Linked DNA regions of Homo sapiens. The protein of the gene in region 1 interacts with the protein of each later gene in a pairwise test. Each region holds a gene or a part of one and is shown on either strand. Other genes may lie near its edges.

Region 1 (7,036 bases):
CCTCAGGGAGGCAACCAGAGAAGGGCAACCCCAAGGCTGCTCTTCTCCTGTTTCCCAAGTGTACAGGCCAAGGAGCAGCTCAGATGGGGCTCCGACGATGCCTCCTCCAGGCAGTCTTCCTGATGCCCTGAAGAGTGACCAGGCCCTCCTGGGGTGCCCCTAGGGGACTGCAATGTGGGTTGTCCCCCGCGCTACATGAGCCCCAGAATGTAGTTCCTTGTTCACTCCTGTCTCCCATATTGCTCAGGGCTCCCGGAGGGCAGGACTGAGCCTTCACTCCTGTCACCAGGGCCTGGCCAGGCACTGATCTAGGGACAGGCCAACCTGCTCTGTGCACTTCTCTGAGCCTGGGACATGGGGATCCCTGGGCGCAGATGACCTGAGGCCCATAGTGAGCACAGGCTCCACGGTATGTTTAAATCTCCCCTCCACCCTTCACCAACCACGGGACGCTGGGTCATCTACTTAAGCCCTCTATCCCTCGGTTTCCCATCTGAAAAACAGGGCAGCAGCAGAGCCTGCCTCCCAGGGCTGTTAAAGAGGCAAGTGGGCTAATGCCCTAAAAAGATGCCTAGCTCGGGGAAGTGTCAGTTAAATAGCTACCCTTGTTGTTACCTATTGGTATTTCAACTGATGCTCACCCACCTATGTTGGCTGGATGGGGGAGCTAAATAACAGATTCTCGCAGCAGCTGCTACTGGCAGGGACCCTGGGCCCTGCCCTCCCTGCGGCCACTGGGCATGCAGGGCCAGGCCTGCTTTGGCCACATCAGTGACCAGTGACTGGGAGACGGGATGCCCACTGCCCCCAGCTGCAGGCCCAGTGGTGGGGACTGGGCTGTCAGGCGGCGCCCAGGGCTTGCTCTTCACCACCCCCACATTGGAGACCGAAGCCAAACAAACCACAGCTGCTTCCTGACTCTTCTTATCTGAAACACACAGTCTTGGACTCTGTCCTTTGCGGGCTGTTCTCATTACCCAGATTGAAACCAAGCTTCCGAGCCCTGGTATCTGTTCCCCTGAAGCCGTGAGGCTGGGCCCAAATCCCGGGGTCAGGCCCTCATCCGCCCAGAGGCCTCCAAAACAAAGCAGAGGAGCACAGTGATCTTTTAAGGAGATGCAAAGACAAACAGGGCCCAGGGCTGCAGTGAGTTTCCAAGGGCACGCCCAGCATAAGTGGTACATGGGAGCCTCAGCGCGCTGCGACCACAGCAGGGAGGCCCCACGGCCCTGCCAGTGGGGTGACTGGGACAAGAAGGAAACCTGGACCACTCGAGCACCTCGTCTCTCACCCGCTGGGTCTCTTGGGCAAGTCACCTAGACTCGGTGTCTCAGTTTCCCCTCTCAGGACTGCCATGAGGAGTCCTGCAGGCACATGGAAAAGGCTGGTGTACACAGCAGGCACTCACCATGGGTCTGGGGCTTCTGCATGGGCAGGAGGGGCAGTGATGAGCTGGGACTGAGCCTCCCTGGCAGCGGCCTCTCTAGCAAAAGTGAAGGCTGACCGAGGCCTGAGTCAGCTGGAGAAGGTGCCCAGGGGCCGGACTCCCCTGGCTCACACCCACCACCCTCACATCACCACCCAGGAACCAACAAGCCTGTCAGCTCTGCCTGTGAACACCAAGGGCCTCAGCTCTGCTTTGAACACCCAGGGCCTCAGTCAGCTCGGCCTGTGAAGACCAAGGGCCTCAGTCAGCTCTGCCTGTGAACACCCAGGGCCCCAGCATCCCGCCTCAGGATGGAGGTGAAGGACGCCCGTCCCTCACAAGTCTCCCTCAGGGAGAGGGGAAACTCAGCACCAAGGGCTTCGCCCGCATGTGGCCTCACTCCCGAGAGTGTGGCTGTCACCTCTGGCCTGCCACCCTAGTTGGTTACAGAGGGCCCGTGAATTTACTCCACATGTTTGGACGCTGTTGCAAATGGAAGCTGTGAAGTGCTGCAGAGGCCCTGGGAAGAGAAGGACTGCAGAGGAGTGGGGGCACCAGCACCACCTCGAGTGGGTGCCACAAAGGTGACAGGTGCAAGGCTCTGAGGAGGTGGGTAGCCCCACTGGATGGACGCCTGTGCACAGCATGGGAGCTGCACAATGCTGAACTGCAGAGGACCTGGCGGGGGGACCCTCCAGGGGTGGCTGAACCCCGTTCCCACCCAGCTATCCCTGAACATCCCCAGCCTGGGCTTCCCAGCCTGCTCCCTTACCGGTGCCGTCTGCTCTTTCCCGGCTCCTGGTATGCTGGGCCTGGGGTTCAGCGGGGGCCGCTGCGTCTCTAACACCAGGGCCAGGGCCAGCCTGGGGTCCGGGTGCTCGGGGCCTTTCGCTCCTCTCCTGCTCCAACGAGGCTGTGGCATTGAGTCGGGAACGCGCCTGGGGCTGCGGTGCTGGCGGGGGCTGTGGGCAGGAGGGGCCCAGCGGAGCAGTGTTGGAGTCCATCCTGCCTGGAAGAAAAGTCAAGGTCAGGCACATCCAGCACCGGCAGAGCCCGCTCTGGCACTTAGTGTCTGCTGGAGACAGAAAAGCAGAGGGAGGCAGGTGGGAGCTGCCAGACACTCCATACAGGATCTCGCTGACACTCAGTACAGTCCCCATGGGCCAGCACCGCTTCCAGGGAGGAAACCATGGGAGGACACTCACCCACGTGACTCTACAGATGGCATGGCACTTACAATCTCAGACCTGCACATGCCGAGGCCTGGAGTCCCTGCCTCACTGGGCATGAGCCACACAACCCTGGCCTTCCCTCATCCAAGAAACGGGGATGATGATAGCAACACCCAGAGCCCACCCATGTGGAGCCTGGCTGCAGGGGGCTGAATTGGGCCCCACATCATGTGCCCACCAATGTCTGTGAATGTGCCCTTATTTGGAAAAACAGGTCTTTGAAGATGTATTTAAGGATCTTGAAATGAGATCAGCCTGGAGTAGGGAAGCCCTGGCTCCAAGAGCTGATGGCCTATAGGAAGAGAAGTGTAACAGAGCCATGCGGAGACGGGTGACAGTGGCCAAGGAGCAGGAGGACCACTGGCCACTGCCAGAAGCTGGACAGAGGCGAGGAACTGAGCCTCCCTCAGAGCCTCCAGGAGGGACCCACCCTGCCCACACCTTGACTTCAGACTTCTGCCTCCAGAACCATCAGAGAACAAACCTCTGTTGTTTTAAGCCACCAAGTTTCCAGTAGTTTCTTACGGAAGCCCTAGAAAACTAATACGCTGGTACTGAGTAAAGTTAAGTAAATATGAGAGGGGAAGGGAGCTGGGGAGGGGAGAAGAGGGCAGGGGAGAGAAGAGAGGGAGCCAAATGGGTGGAGCTGGGATTCATACCCAGATCTGCCGCTCCACAGCCCCCACCCCAGGCCCAAGCCACAGCACCGAAGTCAGAGGACTGATGCCCCAGAAACCAACACAGAGAGTAAAAAGCAAACTAAGGCAAACAGTGCGGTGGGGGCATCAGAAGAGACTAGAGTGAGCAGAGATCCCGTGACCCGTGTCACGCCGGAGCAAGGGCTTTATTTTATTCAACAGAGGCCCTCACATGCTGCTTAGCAACATGGAAAAACACCACCATCCCTGTAATGAAGGACAACCACCGGCCACAGACACAGAGCTGAAAGCGCTGCAGGATCCCGAGCCCCGGACCCGGATGGGCCCTGGATGAGCGGCGTTAGGGGTGGGATGCAAACCCCTGGCACTGCTGGACCTTGAACCTGCTGCTGTGTGAGGCTGTGGAAACTTTTCCTCAGATTCCCAAATGACCCTCCCAAGCTCAGGGCCACAGCCATCCTCTGAGGCACAGAGCAGGGAGAGGCTGGTAACAGAGAGTCTCGCTCCCAGCCCCAAGCTGCCGCAGCGCTGTACTCCTGGCTCTGTGCCCACCAGCTGTGTGGTCCTGAGCAGCCCACATCCCGCTCTGCACCTCAGCCTCCTCATCTGAAAATGGGGACGGGGCAACTGTGAGGACCAGTGAGACCAGACACCATGGGCAGCACGAGGGAGTCCCCTGGCCACCTCTGAACACCCAGCGCTTGGCACTGAGCAGCCAGGTCTGAGTAGGTGCCCAGAGGTCACTTTTGGGGGCAGCTGTGACTGGAAGAGTCAGGAGTGGCCCCAGGCTCCACACACAACAATTTCTGCTCCATTCCCGCTGCAAATGAGTCCTAAAGATCAGACTGGTGTCGCTCAAGAACTCTGCAGATTTCAATCCACACGTTCCTCCCTCAGAGGGACTGAGCCCTTAGTGTAAAACATCCCCCAGGTGCAAACCATGCATGGTCAAGCACACCCCCCCCCCCCACCCCACCCCCGTGCATCCCCCAGGTGCAAACCATGCATGGTCAAGCACCCCCGGGTGCATCCCCCAGGTGCAAACCATGCATGGTCAAGCTTGGGAGCCTGCTCCATCCTGTTTCCAAGTTCCCAGCTCCCGGGAACTGGCACCTTCCACAAAAGCAGCCATTTAACTGCACGTGCAGACCTAAGTGTCCCCTTAGTCAGCTGTGGCAGAGAAATACAGGATCGCACGTAGAACCCACACGCTGTGGGCAAACAGAACCACGGTCCTGCAGGCCACCGGACCACCTGAGATGGTGAAAAGTCAGGTCTTCAAATGACACGTGGCCTTGTCTACCTTCTCTCCCATGGTTCCCACTGCCCCGAAGTCAGGTGTCACTTTCTCAGACAGAGAGAGAGGGCACCTTTACTGAGGGCTGACCTACGCCAGGGCATCTCTGCCATCAAGACCAACGGCTCTGTTCTCTGTACTTGTCTTTTCTCATGAGTTTCTCGTATGGCCCTGGAAGGTAGGTCCTATTGTCGTGAGTTCCTCGCATGGACCTGGAAGGTAGATCCTATTGTCATCCCAGAGTTATAGATGGGGAAATGTTTTATCCTTCAACCTCACCCCACTTCACAGACAGGAACCCAGGTGCAGGGAGGGGAGGGACCTGCTCAAGGTCAAACAGCTCCAGGTACCAGACCTGAAATTCAAATCCAGACCTGCCCAATTCTAATGCTTCTGCAAGCTCATTTCTGAAAAAGACGACTTTGAAATCAGACCGCCATGCCACTGCACCCTCTCTCCCGGGGCCCATTCACTGCAAAACACTGGCTACCCTTCAACATCAGCATACAAATGCTGACCTCCACACTTCTGTTTCTGCAGGGCCCTCTTCCCGGAATGCCTTCTTACCCCCCTCCCCCAGCCTAGACCCTAAGCACCCTTCAAGTCAAGAGCTCCAGCGATACCTCCTTTGTGGGAGCTTCCAAGCTATGTCTGTCCCGAGTCCCTGTCTTCCTCACCTACTCAGGTAAACACACAGCACTCAGGCGATCACCTCTCCATCAGAGCCCTCCCTCTGCTAGAGGTTACAGCTGGAAGCAACATGGTGTGGGGCGTCGGTTACCCTTACTAGTGGCCACATGACCTCACTGTGTCTGTTTCCCCATATGTAAAATGGGGATAGCACCTCCCACATAGGGGTGCTATGGGGATTACGTGTGTGGCAGAAGAGAAAGCAAACTATTGGGCATTAAAAAAAAACTAAGCCGGCCAGGCGCGGTGGCTCACGCCTGTAATCCCAGCACTTTGGGAGGCCGAGGCGGGCAGATCACAAGGTCAGGAGATCAAGACCATCCTGGCTAACACAGTGAAACCCCGTCTCTATTAAAAATACAAAAAAATTAGCCAGGCGTGGTGGCGGGCGCCGATAGTCCCAACTACTGGGGAGGCTGAGGCAGGAGAATGGTGTGAACCCAGGAGATGGAGCTTGCAGTGAGCCGAGATCGCGCCACTGCACTCCAGCCTGGGTGACAAAGCGAGACTCCGTCTCAAAAAAAAGAAAAAAGAAAAAGGAAAAGAAAAACCCTAAGCCATTACTCCCAGGTGCTAAACAAAGGCATGTTCAGTTGGAAAACACTTCATAAAAGGAATTTCAGGAAAACAGATTCTAGCTGGCCTATGTACCATGTATGTCACACTGCAGTTAAAAAAAAACTGTTTAAAGTAAAATCTCTGGTTAGTAAGAATGGATGAATACAGGAGGATTAATTTTCAGGTTCCCTGGGGGTTGGCCAAGTCTGGTTTGGATCAAAGGGCTTGTTATTTCAAAACAAGCACAACAATTCCTGGTCATGGTTGGTCACAGGGACAATGAAGATCAGAAAAGATCTCCCGGTGGAAGGACCTGCTGTCTGGTCCTTCCCTCTCTGAGTCTTCCTGCATGTTACAGCCACTGTGAGCCCTGAGGGCAGGGCTGCAGCTTATCCACTCGGAAGACCGGCTGCCTTGCCAGGAATACGTTAAGCACTTAATGCATGTGGGCAGAAGCCTGAGGCAGCCTGGCCTAGGGCAGGAGCACCATCCAGGCAATAATGCTGTGGGACCTTAGCAAGTCCCTCCCCCAGACCCCAGCATCCAGGCATCTCCAGCTGCATCCACTCTGCACCCTCAGATCCCCACCTGCACGGTGGGGCACTCAGCCCCAACTCCCTACTGGTGACCACAGCAATGGCTTAGAAGCCGTCACTGTGTAAGATCCACAAAACCAAAGTTGCTAGCATTCTTTCCTCATGAGCAATGAGGCATATTTTTATCCCGTCCAAACACAAACACCGGCACCAAGGAGTTCAGCTGAGAGGCCGCCACCTGGAGAGGGCTGCAGGCACCATGCATCCACTCAGACCCGCAGCAGAATGACCACACGTGGCCTTCTGCCCTAAGGGCTCTGGCCCTCACCCAGGCCACCCCCATTCTGTTCTCTCTGGGGGGGCAACCCCATCTCCCAAGCCAGTGCCTCAGAAACAGCCCCTGTGGGAAGCCAAGATGATGTTCACTCTCTCTGATCAGTGCCTCTGCCTCCAGGATGCCAGTCCAGGGGAGTCACTGGAGATGCCCTCGGGGCTCACACACAATGTCCATCATATGGCACTTTCAGCACTGTCCAGAAAGGGGCTGGCTATAAAGCCTACACCCCTCCATATGGTGCAACGCTGTACAGCTGGTAAACGTGACCTCGTACATGAACGTTTTGAGACAAGGAAAAGGT
Region 2 (6,890 bases), on another chromosome or scaffold:
CTTTTCTCGATGTATAAAACAAGGTCATATCTTCAGTGGCAAAATGAACATGAGGATTATGGAGAAAGTAAAGAAAAGTGATTGGCTATAATGGACAGTTTATGCTTATGGGTTGTGGTAGGCAGAATAATGGTCTCCCAAAGATATCCATGACCTAATGCCTGGAACCTGTGAATATGTTATCTTAGATGGTAAAAGGGACTTGGAAGATGTAATTAAATTAAAGATCTTGAGATGAGGAGATTATTCTGGTAGGCACATTGTAATTACAAGGATCCTTAGGAAGGTAGTAGGGTCAGAGTCTGAGAAGGAGATGTGATGATAAAGCAGAGTCATGGGGGAAGATCTGAAGATTCTACCCTGCTCGGTTGAAGATGGAGAAAGGGGCCACAGGCCAAGAATGCAGGTGGTGGCCAGAGGCTGGTGAAAACAGGGAAACTGATTTTCCCCTAGAACCTCCAGAAGAAATGCAGCCCTGGTGACATCTTGATTCTAGCCCAGTGATACTTCTGACCTACAGAACTGTACAATAGTAAATTTATGTTGTTTTAAGCTGGTGATCTATGGCAAGTTGTTACAACAGCAATAAGAAACTGACATAGGAGTAGTAGGAGATAGAGAGAGGGTGTTGGATTAGGGCAGTCAGTTGAGAATTTTGGATTTTATCTTAAAGGCAACAAAGAACCACCAAAGATTTTTGACTAAAAACAGATATAGTAAAAATGATGTATTAGGAGGGTAGACTGGAAGTTGGGTTCAAATTGAAGACAGAAAGATAAGCTCTACAGTAGTGTGCATGGATAAGTATGGTGATGAGTCCCCAGGTTACAAACGGACTCTGAATTGATGAGAAGTTTCCAAATCTGAAAGAGATTGCTAAAGAAGAGCCTACAGAATATAATGACTGATGGGAAAGCAGTCCAATTTCAGATCCCTCATGTGTTGCGAAATGGGCATAAATATAGTGCACACAAGGTTTCTAAATATTTTAAGTCTCTTCCTGGATTCACCAATGTATATTTCACCAACATATATATGAAATTGTAACTTGTTAAACTTCTCTGTTACTTCAAGTTTCACTCTTGTCTTTTTAGAGGATACGCAAACCTCATTTCATCATTTCTACTCTAGAGACTGCTTATTTGGTAGAATGAAAAAGTACAACTTGGATAGTAAACTACTGTATTCAGATTTTGCACAAAAACAACAAAATACAATCTAAAAAAATTTGAGTTGGAGAAGAATCATAGGTCAAATATGTGTAAAAAGTAGTGGCAGTAGCTGGTAAGTTAAACCACTCACCGGCTATAATGCTGTTCAGCAGTTACCACTGTTTGGATTATTGGACATTTCCTGAGTAGTGGGAAATGTTTGGATGAAAAGCCAGTAGCTAATTATTAACTCTCTTTACATTACCTCCCTTCTGAAAAAAGCTCTGCTTGCTGATAATCAACTTCTAAATCATCTTCATAAAACTTAACAATGCTTGGCCATCTAAGGCAGGTCTAAACTAGCTGGCTCTACCCTGTTTTTAGTGGTAAAAATGCTAAATTAACTAGTACTAATAACCATGCCAGCAGTAAAAACACTGAACAATTGAATATCAATGATATGTTAAAGCCAGCTGTTAATTAACCCATTAATAAGGTGATTTTCTTTCACACAGAGATTCTATCGATACACTTTCCCCCCACCTTCTTCCATTTTTCACCATTTCAACTTTCCCCCACCCCAATCAGTAACTGGTAAAAAAGATCTGACCATGAGTTCATTATTGGGAAAATCTTACAAAATGCTATATTTCAAGCTTTTTCTAAATTGGATACAACTTTGCATTTCCACTATGTTTTTAAGTCCCCTCCTTAAAAATACACATTTATGTACAAATAACAATACTATATTTTGCATCTTAAAAGTAGACTGCCCTGTGATATTTACAGAGAAAATGTTCACCATTCCTTTCTACGTTTCAAAATATCCCTCCTCTTGGGTGCTGACATAGAAACATCATTTTGGAACAAGTGGCAGTTTCGTCTTGCATCCCTGCCTTTTCTTGTTCTGCATGGGAAAAAAGCCTAAATAGTAGACAGCAAGAAAATTCAATAATGTCCACTCTGGAACAACCCGAGGGTAGGAATTTTGCATATGTATCAGGCGCCCTATAAGCATCACCCTCCCATCCCATGCCATAAAAAAGGGTGGAGGGGAGGAAATATTCAGCAAAGTCCTAATATACAATGTGTATTGTAAAAACAACTTTAATTTTAAAAGTGAATTCTACCTTCTAAGGTTTTCAGTGCTGCCTCACTCCTACTCCTAGGGTGAAGGACTTTGGAGAGACACGAAAACTAATTCATATCAAAACCAGAACGCGAAACTCCTGCCTGCCCCGTAGCCTGGCCTGAGTACCTGGAATGCCCGAAAGTGGATGGGCGCTCTCTCTTCCTATCTGGCCCATGGCTCTGAGGACCTCCCTCCCCGCTCCAAGCCCCAAGCCCGCGAGCAGGAGATGCTCAGAGAAAAGCGAGTCGCTCACCAGTGAGGAGCCAGCAGCAGGCGACAGCGACCCCTGGGCGGGCGCGGGGCCGAGGGGCCATGGCCGGAGCAGCCTCAGCGCCAGGGGGCCGCGCTGGTTCGCAGGGCAGGACCGGGCGCGGGAGCTGCGCTCTCTGGCTGGGCCACTTATCCCGCTGCCGCGGTTCCCAGTCCTCTGCCCCAGTGGCAGCGGCGCCCAGGAGCGGGAGAGGAGTGATTTCCTGTGTTTTCGTCGAATTCCTCTAAATGCGCTCCACGCTTTTCACATCCCAGACGGATTGCCACATCGCCCGCCCCTTCGCGCTCTTGGTCTCTGAAATCTCACTGGCAGCTTCCCAGGCTCTGTCCGAGACATGGACAAATAAAGCCAGCTTCGCGGGTCCGTGTTTAGGCTAAAGTCCACGGGCTGTAGAAGCAAACCTTAAAGGGACATCTGCCTTTCATTGAGAGGGTGATCTCGTTCTCCGGGCCAAATCCCCTAAGGTGGTAGGAAGGCGGGTAAGGGCTGGACCTTCGGGAGGGTGTTGCCAGCCCAGTGGCTCCGCCTTCACACCCCTTACTTCTCCCGGCCCGGGCAGGGAGGGCGCTTTGACAGTGCCTGGGCGCCCTTAACGGGAGGCAGCTTTCCCGGGTCCATTGCGCAGAGGGATTAGGCCGTCTGTGAAAATGCGAGGATCTGGAATCCCCCCTTCCATCCCCTGCGGACACTTGAAATTCACCGTGAAGTCGTTTTGCACGAAAGGGGGCGTCCCCACCACCCCGACAGGCTCCACTGAGGGCTTTGCTTTCGCTTATGGGGGGGTGGGGGGGTTGCTTCGTTTATGGTAATTCGTGGTTAAAGGGTGGTTGCAGATAAGCTTTTCTTTGAGATAACTAGGATAAGGGGAGAAAAGGAGAAGCAAGACGGAGGAAAAACAGTAAGAGGGAGAGCGAGAAGGGAAGAGAGGAAGAAAAGCAGCCTCCTTGGAAATGGAATGTGTGTGGGCTATTTTGTTTAAGTGAATTAGGATGTTTGTACGCTGGTAATTGAATCTAATAAAGAACTCGGGGCACTACTTTATTTTTTTCTTGCTTGAAACTTTCACGAGTGAAAATGCATTAAGAGTCCAGAAGTGCTTAGGAACTTGCAATGCTTCCCTTTCCTGGTGAGTTGAACAACCTCTCTGAGTCAAAAGCCATATTCACCCTAGCTTCAACCAATGCTGGCTATTTTCAAAATAGCTGTGTCTTAGCGGTTTTGAGAATTTCAAAGACAGAAAGAATAAGTGGATTTGTGTTTAGAGGAATCTGAGGGAAACAGTTCAATTCAATTCTTCAACTCAACAACTAATTGAGCATCTCTAGCAGAACTAGGGCTAGGCAGGACAAGAGTGCCACCCAAAGGAGGGTTCGTTGAGCAGAACGCAACACAGGTAGCACAGAACAGGTAACACGAGGGACAGGAAGGAAGAAGCCCACAGGGTTCACTGGATACATTGCCAGATAGAGGATCACAGCAACTAAAAGCTGGAGAAGACAAAAGTTGAAGAAGTTTAAGGAGCGTCAAAAATGGGGTGGGCAGACCCAAGGAGGTTGAAGGCCATCAGATCTCAGTATGTTGACCCATTAATCAAGAAATTCCTTTTCTATTATGTATCTGAACTGATTCACTATTTAGTAAATACATTAAAAATCTCGTTCTCCCGTTTTTAGTTTTTATAATGTCATTTCTCAGTTCTGTCTTCAAATTTACACAAATGAGTCTCTAGAAAAATTGTATTATGTTGGGTCACAGTTCAATCCCATTGGACTTTACTTAAGTTCCTTTGTTTGTGTTCAATGCTCTCATACCCTGCCAAGGAATTCATTTCCTGTGTATATCTCGTTTCCCTGTTGGTAGTATCAGTTATGTCTTATGCCTCTCAGTATGACTCTCTGTGCTTTGAACAGTAACCAATAGATATTGATTAATTCGTAGACATTTAAAAATCATAGTAAGTACTTTCCCAATGATATTTCTCCAAATTGCTTAGTTTTCAAAAACATATAATAGTGTGTCTATATATACACAATCATGTGTATGTATGTATGTGTACATATATATGTACAGCATATACATACATATGCAAATACATATATGGCATTTTAGCAAATTGCAATATATTTCATTAGAAAAAACAAAAAGAAATTGTAAAATATTGAAATAAAGTAGGGTTAACATATAATATGTTCAAGTTTACAATTACTGGGAAATTTACCTTTCTTCTGGGGGCTAATATATAATTTCAATTTTAATATTTTTATTTCCTCTAGGACTTACAAATTATTGGTGATAACCATCACTAACAGTGATATTGTTACAATTAATTTTCACAAGTTACAAATTTTATGTTTACATGTTTACATATTTATGAATCTTTTATATGTCTAGTCAATACAAATGTAGAGACTGAGAGATAACTATGGTTAGAGAATTAATTTTAGAATCAGTGCTTATTTTCTGAACTTCAATAAACCCAAATACAAATAAATGTCAAGCCGGTTATTTTCTTAACCAATTTTATTCTGACTGACAGAAAGACATGTCATTGAGTAAAGATTTAGAGAAGACAGAAACTTGCCCAGAGTCACAAACTAGTTATTGATATGAGACACTTGATGACAAATGTTTCAGCTCTAGACTTTATACTACATACTTTTCTATTTTAAATGAGACTTGATTTGATCAGATCTCTTTAAGGGTTTGGAAGCATGAGTAGGAGCATGAACCTTATTGTGAACTGCACACGCTTCTTATGAGAATCTAATGCCTGATGATCTGTCACTGTCTCCCATCATCCCCAGATGAAAACGTCTAGTTGCAGGAAAACAGGCTGAGGGCTCCCACTGATTCTACATTATGGTGAGTTTTATAATTACTTCATTATATATTATAACATAATTATAATGGGAATAAAGTGCACAATGAATGTAATGTGTTTGAATCATCTTGAAACCGTTTCCCCTACCCCTGGTCTGTGGAAAAAATGCCTTCTATGAAACCGGTCTCTCTGCCAAAACGGTTGGGGATGGCTGCACTGAAAGATTAGAGACTGAACTGATTAAGAATTTGGAAAGTGGATGTCTATGAAATGAGGCAAGAGTAATTGAGATTATTAACCAATAATCTCAAAAAGAAAAACATATACTTAAAACCAAAGTATTCTTCTTGGAGTTAATCTAATATACTGAGTAAAGTAACTAGAGTAAGTAAGGTTCTGGAGTTACGCTGCTTGGACTCAAGTCCTGGAACCACAATATAGTAGCTGTGTGATTTGGGAAACGTCATCAAGTTTATCTAAGCCTCAGTTTTCTCAAATGTAAAGTGGGAATGAAAATACTGTACTACTTCTGGTCTGAGAATTGCTGTGGGGATTAAATGAACCGAGCCTCTGAGCATTTAGCACAATGCCTGGATTAAAGTAAGTGCTCGGTTAGTATGAATCATTCTTCTCTGTAAATAGAAGAATTGGTATTAAACAGACCATGTAAACAGGGCAGGCTCTGCGTGTGGTAGACCCTGTAGGAAGTGGTGAAATTTGATGGCCATCAGAAGAGGAACTTTAATGTCCGCCTAAAAATATCTCCATCAACTCCTATTATTATTTCTGGAATCCTCGCTTTAAAAATATTTACCTTGGATTAGGGAATTATCTTGAAGATAGTTCTATAAAATGGGTATGCATGAAGACATCAGAACCCATTATAACGTTCACATGAATTTGCTTTTCAAATTGGCTGGCCGTCAGAGGTTTTTTTTTTTTTTTTTTTTTTTTAATTTTTTTACAAGAGAAGAACATTCCGCTAAGAGGTTGGGGGAATAGAAGAGGTTCTAGAACTCCGTGTCTAATGTATGCCAGGGTTCTTTAGCAGTAAGATTATAGGTTCTCAAAGCTACAGGATAAATAAGGTACTCCCACCTGGGTAGTGGGGGTGGTGCTGATTTTACTCAAAAATAAATAATTTAAAAATTGTTGTTTGCTAAAATAACAGATTTTTATAAGAAATATTTTTAAATCATGTTTTCTTTTTAAAAGTCAAATATGAGATTTTAAATACATTTTAAGGTAGCATCAAAGTGTGGTTTTACCCCAACCCCATCCCCTCCACTCTCAGGTGTTAGGGGTAGGTGGAAGTGTACAGAACTGCTTCCGTTTTTACAAAGATTTTATGAAGATTTGGATTTTTAAGTTTTAGTATGTAAGCACTTAGGGGAATATACCCCAAAACAGTGGGGCTAACTCACAAAGCTAACTCATATGGAAAACTTAGTCTAGTTCAATAATTTTTAATTTTCTGGCATATATTGGGCTCCAGGGCTATGTTCTGCAGAGGCA
Region 3 (3,820 bases), on another chromosome or scaffold:
CATGAGGTCAAAGACAATGTCTATTTTGTTCACCATAATACCTTGCACAGCACCTGGGCTAGAGTAAGCACTCAATAATGTCCGAGTGGATGAATGGACTGCAGAATAAAGCACTGGTGCAGAGCCCTGCTAAACTACCCTAGTTTCGCTTAGGGCTCCATCTCCCTCTGCATATCTTCATTTCCTCCTTCCCTGTTTGGAGCAGTGCCAGAGGTCTAGAAGAAAACCAGGAAGCCACAGGTCCGAGAGTATAAGCAGGTTTTGCTTCAGACATCGGCTCAGTCGGGGTAGATGATGTCATATCAGGGGCTCTAGGGAGACTCCCTTCCCCCAGATCCCCTCTTCCACAGTTCCTGGATTTCTACCATGAGTCTTCTGGCCGTGAAGGATTCCTGATCACATGCAAACACTTATTATCTAGCTAGTAACACGCACTGAGTAGGGGGACGGCATGGATGCAGCCTTCTGTCTTTACGAAAACCATGAGTCTGAAGACATGGGTCCCATGTCACCATTAACTAGCTGGGTGACTTTGGGTGAGTCACTTCTTGTCTCTCATCTGCAAAGTGAGTAGTTCAGATGGAGAATTGGTTTTTAAACTTTTTCTTTTCCCCAGCAGATCAACTCTTCAAATTATTCGAATGACCCATATGAGAAACAGAGAAAAGCCAAGTATTTCTGGTTGAAACGGAGAAGCTGGGCTGGAGTGCGCCTCCCTCCAACTCCCCGCTTTAACTCCCTAAGGTTGGTGGGATGGCCAGCTCTAAGATCTCAGAAGGCTGACCAGCTGTGTGCTAAGAACAAAGCAGAAGGCAGCGAGGTTTGTACACGCTGATTGCAGTTACTTAGGCACATTAAAAGATCAGCGGGTGACTGGACTGAATCTGATAGTCGGAGCTCTTAAGCTTCGAAGTAGGTGACTTTCACAGCAACCAAAGTGCTGAGCAGGCAGCCCCTTTGTGCAAGGAGGAGGTTCCAGCCACTTTCGAAGAGAAATGAGGGCCCCAGAGAGAGGAAGCCCAGAAGACTCAGTTACCCTCTTCACATCTACAAAGACGAAATTGCCACCCTACCTTTCCAGACCAGGGACTCCAGGTGTTGAAGGGACTGCCCACAATCTCACAGGTGCTTGGCTTCCAGGTTCAATTAGTTGCCATGCCCTGGGGGGAACTCAGGTCCCCCATCTTCCTCCCCACCCCACCCCCCAGGAAGCTCTCTGGCCTTGGCTCCAAGCAGGTGTGCTCAAGAGGCTGCCGACTGGGCCACCTGGCAGCCCCAGGTGCTGCGTGCATGCTGCCATGGAGACAGGCCCCTGGGTTGGTGGCAAGAAGGCAGTCTCCCAAAGCTTTGCCGATTCAGGGGAGGGAGCAACTGGAGCCTCAGGCCCTCCAGAGTAGTCTGCCTGACCACCCTGGAGCCCACAGAAGCCCAGGTGCGTGCCCTGAAGGTTTCCCAGGACAAAGGGAGGGAGGAGGAGCCAGGGTAGGCAGAGGATGGGGAAGAGGCTCTGGAAGGGGAAGAGGCTCTGGAAGGGGAAGAGGCTCTGGAAGGGCTGATCTGGGGACTGGGGCAGGGAAGCTTCTGCAAGGCTTCCAGGTAAGGAGAAAGGCCTTTCCAGGGGCTTCCTTGCCAGGCCAAGGACTGGGTGAGTAGGATGTGGAGGGTTGGCCCTCTAGCTCAAGGGGAGGAGGGAAAGAGGGCTGGCATTTGTCCCCATAGGAGGGACAGACCAGGGAATTCACAAAACCCATCTCTGCGCTAGTCAGGGATTTGAGGTAGCAGGGAAGGAAACATTTGTCCTGTAGCAAAACCCGCAGACTGCAGCTTACCCCCAGCTCCCTGGATTCAGGGCAGCCAAGGGCACAGACAATGACCATAAGGAGCATTTGCGTCCAGCTCCAAAGCCCAGGGCGACATCTGCTCCAATGCCGGCTCTCTTGGGGGCTCTTGGTAGGGGTGGCCCAGGCCTTCACCTTGACAGAGGGGAGGCTGTAGGAGCATTTGACTCAACTCGATGGGTTAGGAACTGGTGATCAAGAACAAAACGCTTTTGAACCTAAGTAAAACGTGGTGATTACACCTTTCAACACCCACAGAACACTTTGCCCCAGGCCAAGCACAAGGATGGGACTTCATGGCTGTTCCTTTGCTCCTTTCCCCCTTCTGCCAGGACGTCTCCCGCGAAGCCTCCCCGTGTGTGGCTGAGGATGGCTGAGCAGCAGGGCCGGGAGCTTGAGGCTGAGTGCCCCGTCTGCTGGAACCCCTTCAACAACACGTTCCATACCCCCAAAATGCTGGATTGCTGCCACTCCTTCTGCGTGGAATGTCTGGCCCACCTCAGCCTTGTGACTCCAGCCCGGCGCCGCCTGCTGTGCCCACTCTGTCGCCAGCCCACAGTGCTGGCCTCAGGGCAGCCTGTCACTGACTTGCCCACGGACACTGCCATGCTCGCCCTGCTCCGCCTGGAGCCCCACCATGTCATCCTGGAAGGCCATCAGCTGTGCCTCAAGGACCAGCCCAAGAGCCGCTACTTCCTGCGCCAGCCTCAAGTCTACACGCTGGACCTTGGCCCCCAGCCTGGGGGCCAGACTGGGCCGCCCCCAGACACGGCCTCTGCCACCGTGTCTACGCCCATCCTCATCCCCAGCCACCACTCTTTGAGGGAGTGTTTCCGCAACCCTCAGTTCCGCATCTTTGCCTACCTGATGGCCGTCATCCTCAGTGTCACTCTGTTGCTCATATTCTCCATCTTTTGGACCAAGCAGTTCCTTTGGGGTGTGGGGTGAGTGCTGTTCCCAGACAAGAAACCAAACCTTTTTCGGTTGCTGCTGGGTATGGTGACTACGGAGCCTCATTTGGTATTGTCTTCCTTTGTAGTGTTGTTTATTTTACAATCCAGGGATTGTTCAGGCCATGTGTTTGCTTCTGGGAACAATTTTAAAAAAAAACAAAAAAACGAAAAGCTTGAAGGACTGGGAGATGTGGAGCGACCTCCGGGTGTGAGTGTGGCGTCATGGAAGGGCAGAGAAGCGGTTCTGACCACAGAGCTCCACAGCAAGTTGTGCCAAAGGGCTGCACAGTGGTATCCAGGAACCTGACTAGCCCAAATAGCAAGTTGCATTTCTCACTGGAGCTGCTTCAAAATCAGTGCATATTTTTTTGAGTTGCTCTTTTACTATGGGTTGCTAAAAAAAAAAAAAAAATTGGGAAGTGAGCTTCAATTCTGTGGGTAAATGTGTGTTTGTTTCTCTTTGAATGTCTTGCCACTGGTTGCAGTAAAAGTGTTCTGTATTCATTAATTCATTCACTTATTCATTCCACGACCATTTACTGGGCTGGTGCTGAGTGCCAGAACTGAGGGAAGAGAAGAGTAGGATTATCCAGGGGTGGCAGATGGCCCTCACTAGCAGGAAGGGGTGTGCTCATTCAGCTGCTGCTTTTATGAGACCACCTCTTGCCAGCATGTAGTTCATGGAGTGTTAGGTGAAATCTAAAGGTGAACGATGTTAGATCAGTGGACTAGGGGAAGTCTGGGATTTGGAGGAATAGGTCTTTCTTCCTCCCGGCAGATACAGAGGCCCTGATTAGAATGGACATGGGGTAGAGTTCTGATTCCCTTCCCCCAAGCTCCATAATTCCAGCTTCAAGAAGATGGAAACGCTGGACACAGGCAAAAGTTTAACTCCCATCCCAGGCCATGGGAGGCAGCGGGGGAACCCTAGCTTTCACTTTACATGATAGAATCCAGGAACCAATCAGACAGAATTTGGGGGCTCAGGCTGTTGCTTGGTAAGTTGCAACCTTGCAGTGTCTAAAACTC
Region 4 (7,036 bases), on another chromosome or scaffold:
TCAAGCCACCCTCTACTTTTTCCAAAAGCAATATTAGATATGCCTAGTAGTCTATAAATAGCTCATCTGAAGCAGTTGTACCCAAACTTTTATGGTTTGATTTTATGACAACATCTATTTCCTCCCATCCCTGCCTAAAAGAGTTAAAGGATGCATTATAATTTTGAAATTAATTAAAATTAGTTGTTTAAGCTGGGTATGGTGGCACGTGGCTATATTCCCAGCTACTCGGGAGGCTGAGATGAGAGGATCCACTTAAGCCCAGGAGTTCGAGGCTGCAGTGAACTACGATGGTGCCACTGCACTCCAGCCTGGGCGACACAACAAGACACTGTCTCTAAAATAAATAAATAAATATTTTTAAAAAATTAGCTGTTTAAATTTTGTAATATCTTTTAGCTTAATTATAAATACACTAAGGCAGAGGATCTAAAATTCTAGTAGGCCTAAGAATCCCTTGAGGCAAAGTGTCAGCCTCGCAAAACATACAGAATTTTGTTCCTACCTTTTGACAGTTTGCTTGAAAGAGTCTGGCCTGCAACCTAAAATACTATTCTAAAAACCATGACTAGAAATCCATAATAAGAGCAACAACAAAACTAAATTGCTTATTAAGGCTAAAGTTCTTGTCTATAATAGTTGAGTAAATCAGTGTTTCACATCCATACTTTTAAATGTGTACTTCAACTTCTATCCTCATGATGAATTCCTACTCATTGAATAGTTTGTTAAAAATGCACACCCAACAATTAACCTTTTGAATAAAAAAATACAATCACAAATCTTAATATTAGATTTGACAAATACTGTTTAGCATCCAGTAAGGATATAATCTATCAGTTAAAACTATTTGATATAATCTATCAGTTAAAACTATTAGATTGAGGAAAAGAAGTATTATGTTTCTTTTTTTTCTTTGAGATGGAGTCTCGCTCTGTCCCCCAGGCTGGAGTGCAATGGCGTCATCTTGGCTCACTGTAACCTCGGCCTCCCAGATTCAAGTGATTCTTCTGCCTCAGCCTCCCAAGTAGGTGGGATTACAGGCGTGTGCTACCACACCCAGCTAATTTTTGTATTTTTTAGTAGAGATGGGGTTTCACTATGTTGGCCAGTCTGGTCTTGAACTCTTGACCTCAAGTGATCCACCCGTCTCAGCCTCCCAGAGTGCTGGGATTATAGGCGTGAGCCACTGTGCCTGGCCTGAAAGTATGTCTCTTTAAACAATTATTATTATTATTCTTATTTTTAATAGCGATGAGGTCTCACTGTATCGCCCAGGCTGGTTTCAAACACCTGGGCTCAAGCGATCCTCTAGCCTCAGTCTCCCAAAGTGCTGGGATTATAGGCATGAGCCACCATGCCCGCTGGAAAATGTGTTAATTGACTGCCTGAGACACCTAACCATAACAGATACTTATGTTTTGCTCCTTGTCTTTAGGAAAATTGAAGCTTGGCTATACCTGGCAGGTTCAGTTCTTCTAATTCAATCACCAAGCGTCTGCTGCTATAATAGTCCTTCATCAGCTTCTGTAGGTCTTCAGGTAACCCTGGTTTTGGTTCTGATTTTGCAAGAACATCAGTAATTTTCTTCTAAGATATGAGAAAGAAGAAAAATGGGACGACATATTTTAAAATGGCATTTGGTTGGAATAGGTTAGTTCCTCTGGCATTTAAACGGCACATAGCTTTTGGTGTTAGCCAAGTGTGAATGTGGGTTTTAATAAATACATTTGAGAAAATTCACTAAATACTTCTTGGACATAACTATTGCTTTGAAAAATGAAAAAATGATCTAGAAAGCTCCCTGTAACTCTTGGTCTATGACTTCCAAGATAACTAAATTTTTGCAGGCATCTCCATACTGGGGTATTATTTTCTGTTAAAAGTAAAGAAATCTCATTGCTATGGAGAGCTCTCTTTTAGCCCTAGATGATTTATATTCCTGTAGGATTAGAATTTTGAGAATTTCTTGCCCAATCTGGTTTTTGAGGTGCTGAGTCTTAGTTTGGATTTCTGTCATTAGTGTAAAACCCGCAGTAGGAATCTGAGCATAGGGGCCTACTGAGAAGGGGACTTAACACCCTCGATTCTCAGGTCTTGGATAACTGATGGTATTAAAGTGGCCCTATGCAAAGTAGAAAAAATATTACAGGAAATACTTTCCAACATCGATTTTGATTTGGACTCATTTGTGTAGCATGTATTGAATGCTGCAGTAGTAGAAACCCACAATCATTCATTTATTTCCATCATAAGCTTCCCTTCTCACTTCCTTCTAATGTTCCACCAAAGATCCAGAAGGAGCATTCCCCACCCCTGACCCCAGATTTTCCCCCTCCTTCTACAATATCCTCATTTCTAGACACTTGCCAAGAATGGTCAAGCCTCTGTCAAAGAAATTAACTTTTAAAAATATGTCATCAGTGGGCACATTTTAGTGTGACCTCAGTCAAGACTAAACTATCTAGCTAGAGTTTTGACCTTGAGCCACCAAGAACTTAACACTCCAGAAGGCCATTAGTGTACAAATTATCAAAGCGAAGTTAAAGTCACTTATTTAAGGACTTGCCAAACCTCAGCCAATTTGGCATCTCCCATTTTCCTATTTGGCCATTTGTAAGAAAAGAAAACATATGCACACACACTCTCAGTTTTCTAAAAGCTTGCTGTTAAGTAATAGGTTTGAGTCCATCTTCTTTCCTCTAATCCCAATCGTATTTCCTCGGCTGACTTCAGCAGCAGACCCCTCTTGGCAGGGAGAGAATTACACTGCTGTTTTCACAACTGTGGGAGAAGGTCATAGCTAACCATACTTTCTCCAAGGCTGAGCCATAAAAAAGTTTGTATATGAGAAAGAGTCTTTCCTGTGCTCACCAGCAAATATCAAAATGCAAGGTAGGGGAGCTTTTTTGACCTAATTTATGGTTCCAAATTAGTCAGAAGTGCCTCATACTACCTTCATCTGCTTATTATTTTCTTTTTATTCATACTTTAAGGTATAAGGTCTTAAAATCCGGAATGAATAGAAAAAGGAGGTTGGTATATTTCTTTTCATGGACAGAGCCAGAAGGGCCGGGGGAGGATAGCTCTGGACTCCTTCTAGAATTAGAAATCTATGTCTGACATCTGACCACACTGAAAACATAGGGTGGGTAACAAAGATATTTGGCACTCCACAGGACTGAAATAGGAGTCAGAAGAATTTATTCTTAGCTCCAACAGAAACACTTATTAGTAGTGACCTTAGGAAAGTCACCAAACCTCAAAGAATCTTACAATGTCTGCATCTCTTAGGTGGGGATTACAATAGTTGCCTCAAGAAAGTATGATATATAAAAATGTGATGGAAACCATGTGGGGCCATACAAATTTAAGAAATTATTAATATTACCTTTCTTCTTTTCCTGGTCTTGGTGGTATTCTCTTTTCTTTCCTTTGGTTGTATCAAAAAACATTCTTTAGGCTATTAAGAAATACAAATGAGAACATTTTAATCTTTTCATGATAAAGTGTCAATTAGTGGCATGAACCCCAAAGTACTTTCTGCCATGCATGTATTCTTCAGAGTATCTTGGTAATATTCTACAGAAAGAGAGATGCTGGAAGATCTACCGTAGGTTACTATGCAGCGGTTGGGCTGAGAGAATTTGAGAAAGTCAGAAAGCGCAGATGACTTAAGACTGGAGAATCTTTGAGCAAGATCAAATTGTGAGTGAGTGTATATGTGTGCTTGGTGTGGAAGTGCAGTGTATTGGAGATTGAAGACAGTGGCTGAGTTTGTATAATACAGCAGAAATCGATGTGATTAAAATTAAGATGTGGTAAGACAGTCTTTGACTAGAGTGACTAAGGTTTTCCATGAACTAGCTGTGTGTGAGCCTACATTTCCAAGTCACTGGTTTATTGTTTTGTATTATACATTCCTTTCCTCTTTTCAATAAGCATAGAAAATCCAAAGTAAGATATATTAACTTACGTTTTTATAAACCAGCTGCATCAAATGCCTTTGCTATAATGACTACAAAATGAATGTCTTTGCTACTAGTCTGATAACCGTCTCAGCACCACAGTATCTAGAGTAATCTGTTTTGCCTGTTGCCTTGACCCCTGAGTACCCCAGTTTAGTACTATTTTTACCCTGAGGGCTTTTTTCTAATGTAGAAAAACAGGAAATTTGGACTAAGACCTTGATTTATAAAATAGAATGCCCCAGATTCCATATTTATTAATCATAAGCAGGAGTATAAAATGTTTCCTGTGCTGGACCTTTTATGCAACATTGTCAAACAAGTTGCCAAGTAAGATATAAAATGTAAGTGAAAACTTATTCTGAGTTTTCCTTGATTAACTTTCCATTCCAACCAGAGAATACTCAGTTTAAACTGATAAGCTACTAACTAAAGCAATCTTGTCTCCACTGGCTCTGCTAAAATGATTACAGATGAATCTTTCTATGAAAGCTTGCAGACAGCCTGCAGATTGAGAATGTCTATGGCCTGAAGTCAGAGAGAAAGATATAATACTACATAATTTCTTCAAGACATGGGGCCAAAGACCCGCAGTTTCAAGATTCTCTTTTAGTTATTACAGAAATAGATTTAAAAAGTTCAGGATTAAAGTGACATGGGAAATCTTGAAATTTTAGTTTCCTCTAAGATAAAACAAAAAACCTGCAAAGAGCAATTGCATCATAGCTAAAGAAAAGAGAGATATGGCTTCTTTTATTTAGAAAGTTAAACTGTCTTGTGGATGTAGATACATGCCAATTTGATGCTGGTACATGCCAATTAGAGACTGTGCCAAGGCCACTAATATGTCACAGAAGCTGCCAGATGGCCATAAGAGTCCAATTACAAACCAGGCCAGTGTTCAGCTCATGTTCCTAAGGCAAAGGCCGGGATATGATTAGCAGATCCCTTAAACTATACTGCATTATCTCTACCAGTATCAAGGTTTTTGGGAAGCGTATTTAGAAACCTGTTACAATCTATTAACGTATGGAGGTGTTCTCGAGGAATATGTTCAGTGTACTGGTTGCATTTGTGCTAGGTTTACAAAGCCAATTAATTAAAACATGACATAAATTAAATCTAGAAATGAGCTCAATTGTAAGAATATGGACTCTTTAATTCTGGGAGAAAAAATAAAAATGTAATTCTGAATCATGCACAGGAAAACGAAACATGCTTGATGAACTGCTTTAGCCATGATATTGCTTCAGTTAAATGATAGGTTCAAATTCTTACATCATCCTAAAGGAAATGCAAAATAATCTTTGGTTTTGGAGACTAGTTACTTTAGCTGGCTGTGGTAGGGTGCCAATGAAGAGGCCAATTTTATGGGGTCAATTTCCATAGAGGTGAGATGACTTTATGGAGAAATCCAAATCCACAGTATTGAAAATTCTTACATTTAGTTAACTGCTTTATGAATGTTGCTGTTTACCCTCAGGGAGACTAGGTAGGAAGATGTGAAAGAATCCGGCCAAGCCACTAAGCATTTCTGGAAACCAATTCCAACACTGTGTGACTTTGACAGTTGATAAGTAATGTCATTTCTTTATATGAAATGTAGCAATTTTAAATATGTAGTCTGAAGAATCACACTCCCCTAAAAAAATGTTGCTTTTAAGGGAAGCAACTAGAGCATATTTTCAATTCCTTAAAGTATCAAAAATTACTTTAAGAATGATTCTCCTGGTTACACATGGCAAATGGACCTCAAAATACCAGTAAACTGAAAATAAAGGGCATTGAAAAGGACCTATTGAGCAGGATCTATATAAAAACCAAGAAACCAGGAGAGAGAACAACAGTAATGGAGAGATTTCAACAACTTTTTGGAAAATGGAAAGTGGCTGGAGCTGGATAGAAGTGACTTGGCACAGAGAGAAAGCTAGCAGCTGGGTTTCAGAAGGGGTGGAAGCTAACAATAAGTAAGTCTTTGACCTGCTCGACTCTGAGAAGGTCCAGTACTTTGGAGGCACAAAGTACTACAGAGAGTAAAGGGTTAAAAAAGAAGAGATTGGCTGAAAGTTTATATTTAGAATGATTAGCTACTCCTGTCCCCCACTAGGTGATATCTCCTACCCTGGTAGCCAAGCAACTATCCCATTACTGCTTCCTTTCACCTTGCCTGTCCTGCCAGCCGACTGGAGATCTATTCTCTGAAGACATCAAGAGGATCAAGGCTGGGCCAGGGGAGAAAGGGCAGAGGCTGAGGCTTGCCTCCATTTCCTGTCCCTATTCCATGCTTACATATTGCAGGCAGGAGACTACTGAATTCCTCTTTGGAAAAATGGAATGGCCTAAAAGAAATACCATCAGAGAGTGACGTTTGGGAGTTCCATAGTAAAAAATCCAGCTTGTTATCCTATCACCCTACCATGAATACACTAATTGACAAACCCAACTCATCACTGTTTCAGTGTATCTCTCTTCAATAAGAATGGATAGCTAAGGTTCCTCAGACATCTAAGGAAAGTCTCCAACACAAGAGCAAATAAATAACAAAAAGAAAAATGAACCTAGAGAAAAGTGGGATGGTACCTCAAAATAATGACAATTCATATCCTCAGAGAGATAAGGGAAGATTTTGCAACCATGAAACAAGAACAAGATGCTGTAAAAATGGGAAAAACAGTTAAGCATTAAAACAAATAAGAAATGTGGAATAAAAATAAACGAGGAAGGCTTGAAGATAAAGTAGAGGCAATGTCCCAGAAAGAGATGAAAAATGAAAAGAAAAAAGTGGTGAGAAAATCAGAGAATCAGCCCAAGAGATTCAATTTTTCAATAAATGATATTATAGAAAAAGAGATCACATAAAACAGTAGGGGGCTTGGCATGGTGTCTCATGTCTGTAACCCTAGTGCTTTGTGGGGCCAAGGTGGGAGGACTGCTTGAGGCCAGGAGTTTGAGACCAGCCCTGGTTACATAGTGAGACCCTGTCTCAACAACAACAACAACAACAAAAAACAGCCAGGCGTGGTGGCTCACACCTGTAATCCCAGCACTTTGGGAGGCCGAGGCAGGTG

The links.
Region 2: the proteins of WFS1 (region 1) and PELO interact in binary tests that used the Homo sapiens proteins (3 or more experiments, as listed by UniProt).
Region 3: the proteins of WFS1 (region 1) and RNF183 interact in binary tests that used the Homo sapiens proteins (3 or more experiments, as listed by UniProt).
Region 4: the proteins of WFS1 (region 1) and CMSS1 interact in binary tests that used the Homo sapiens proteins (3 or more experiments, as listed by UniProt).

Annotation. Positions count from the first base shown.
Region 1 is NC_000004.12:6,272,850-6,279,885, reverse strand, and holds part of WFS1 (wolframin), read right to left. Parts: intron 2,436-7,036; 5' UTR 2,431-2,435; coding exon 2,199-2,430; intron 1-2,198. UniProt on the Homo sapiens protein: Participates in the regulation of cellular Ca(2+) homeostasis, at least partly, by modulating the filling state of the endoplasmic reticulum Ca(2+) store.
Region 2 is NC_000005.10:52,784,061-52,790,950, reverse strand, and holds the start of PELO (protein pelota homolog), read right to left. Parts: upstream 3,036-6,890; 5' UTR 2,598-3,035; coding exon of another isoform or gene 2,537-2,597; intron 1-2,536. Other genes in the region: ITGA1 (integrin alpha-1 precursor), read right to left, coding at 2,537-2,597. UniProt on the Homo sapiens protein: Component of the Pelota-HBS1L complex, a complex that recognizes stalled ribosomes and triggers the No-Go Decay (NGD) pathway.
Region 3 is NC_000009.12:113,296,572-113,300,391, reverse strand, and holds the end of RNF183 (E3 ubiquitin-protein ligase RNF183), read left to right. Parts: exon of another isoform or gene 1-536; intron 537-616; 5' UTR 617-820; exon of another isoform or gene 821-2,170; 5' UTR 2,171-2,207; coding exon 2,208-2,786; 3' UTR 2,787-3,299; downstream 3,300-3,820. UniProt on the Homo sapiens protein: Acts as an E3 ubiquitin ligase catalyzing the covalent attachment of ubiquitin moieties onto substrate proteins. Triggers apoptosis in response to prolonged ER stress by mediating the polyubiquitination and subsequent proteasomal degradation of BCL2L1.
Region 4 is NC_000003.12:100,156,857-100,163,892, reverse strand, and holds part of CMSS1 (protein CMSS1), read right to left. Parts: intron 3,709-7,036; exon of another isoform or gene 3,464-3,708; coding exon 3,392-3,463; exon of another isoform or gene 3,189-3,391; intron 1,591-3,188; coding exon 1,461-1,590; intron 1-1,460.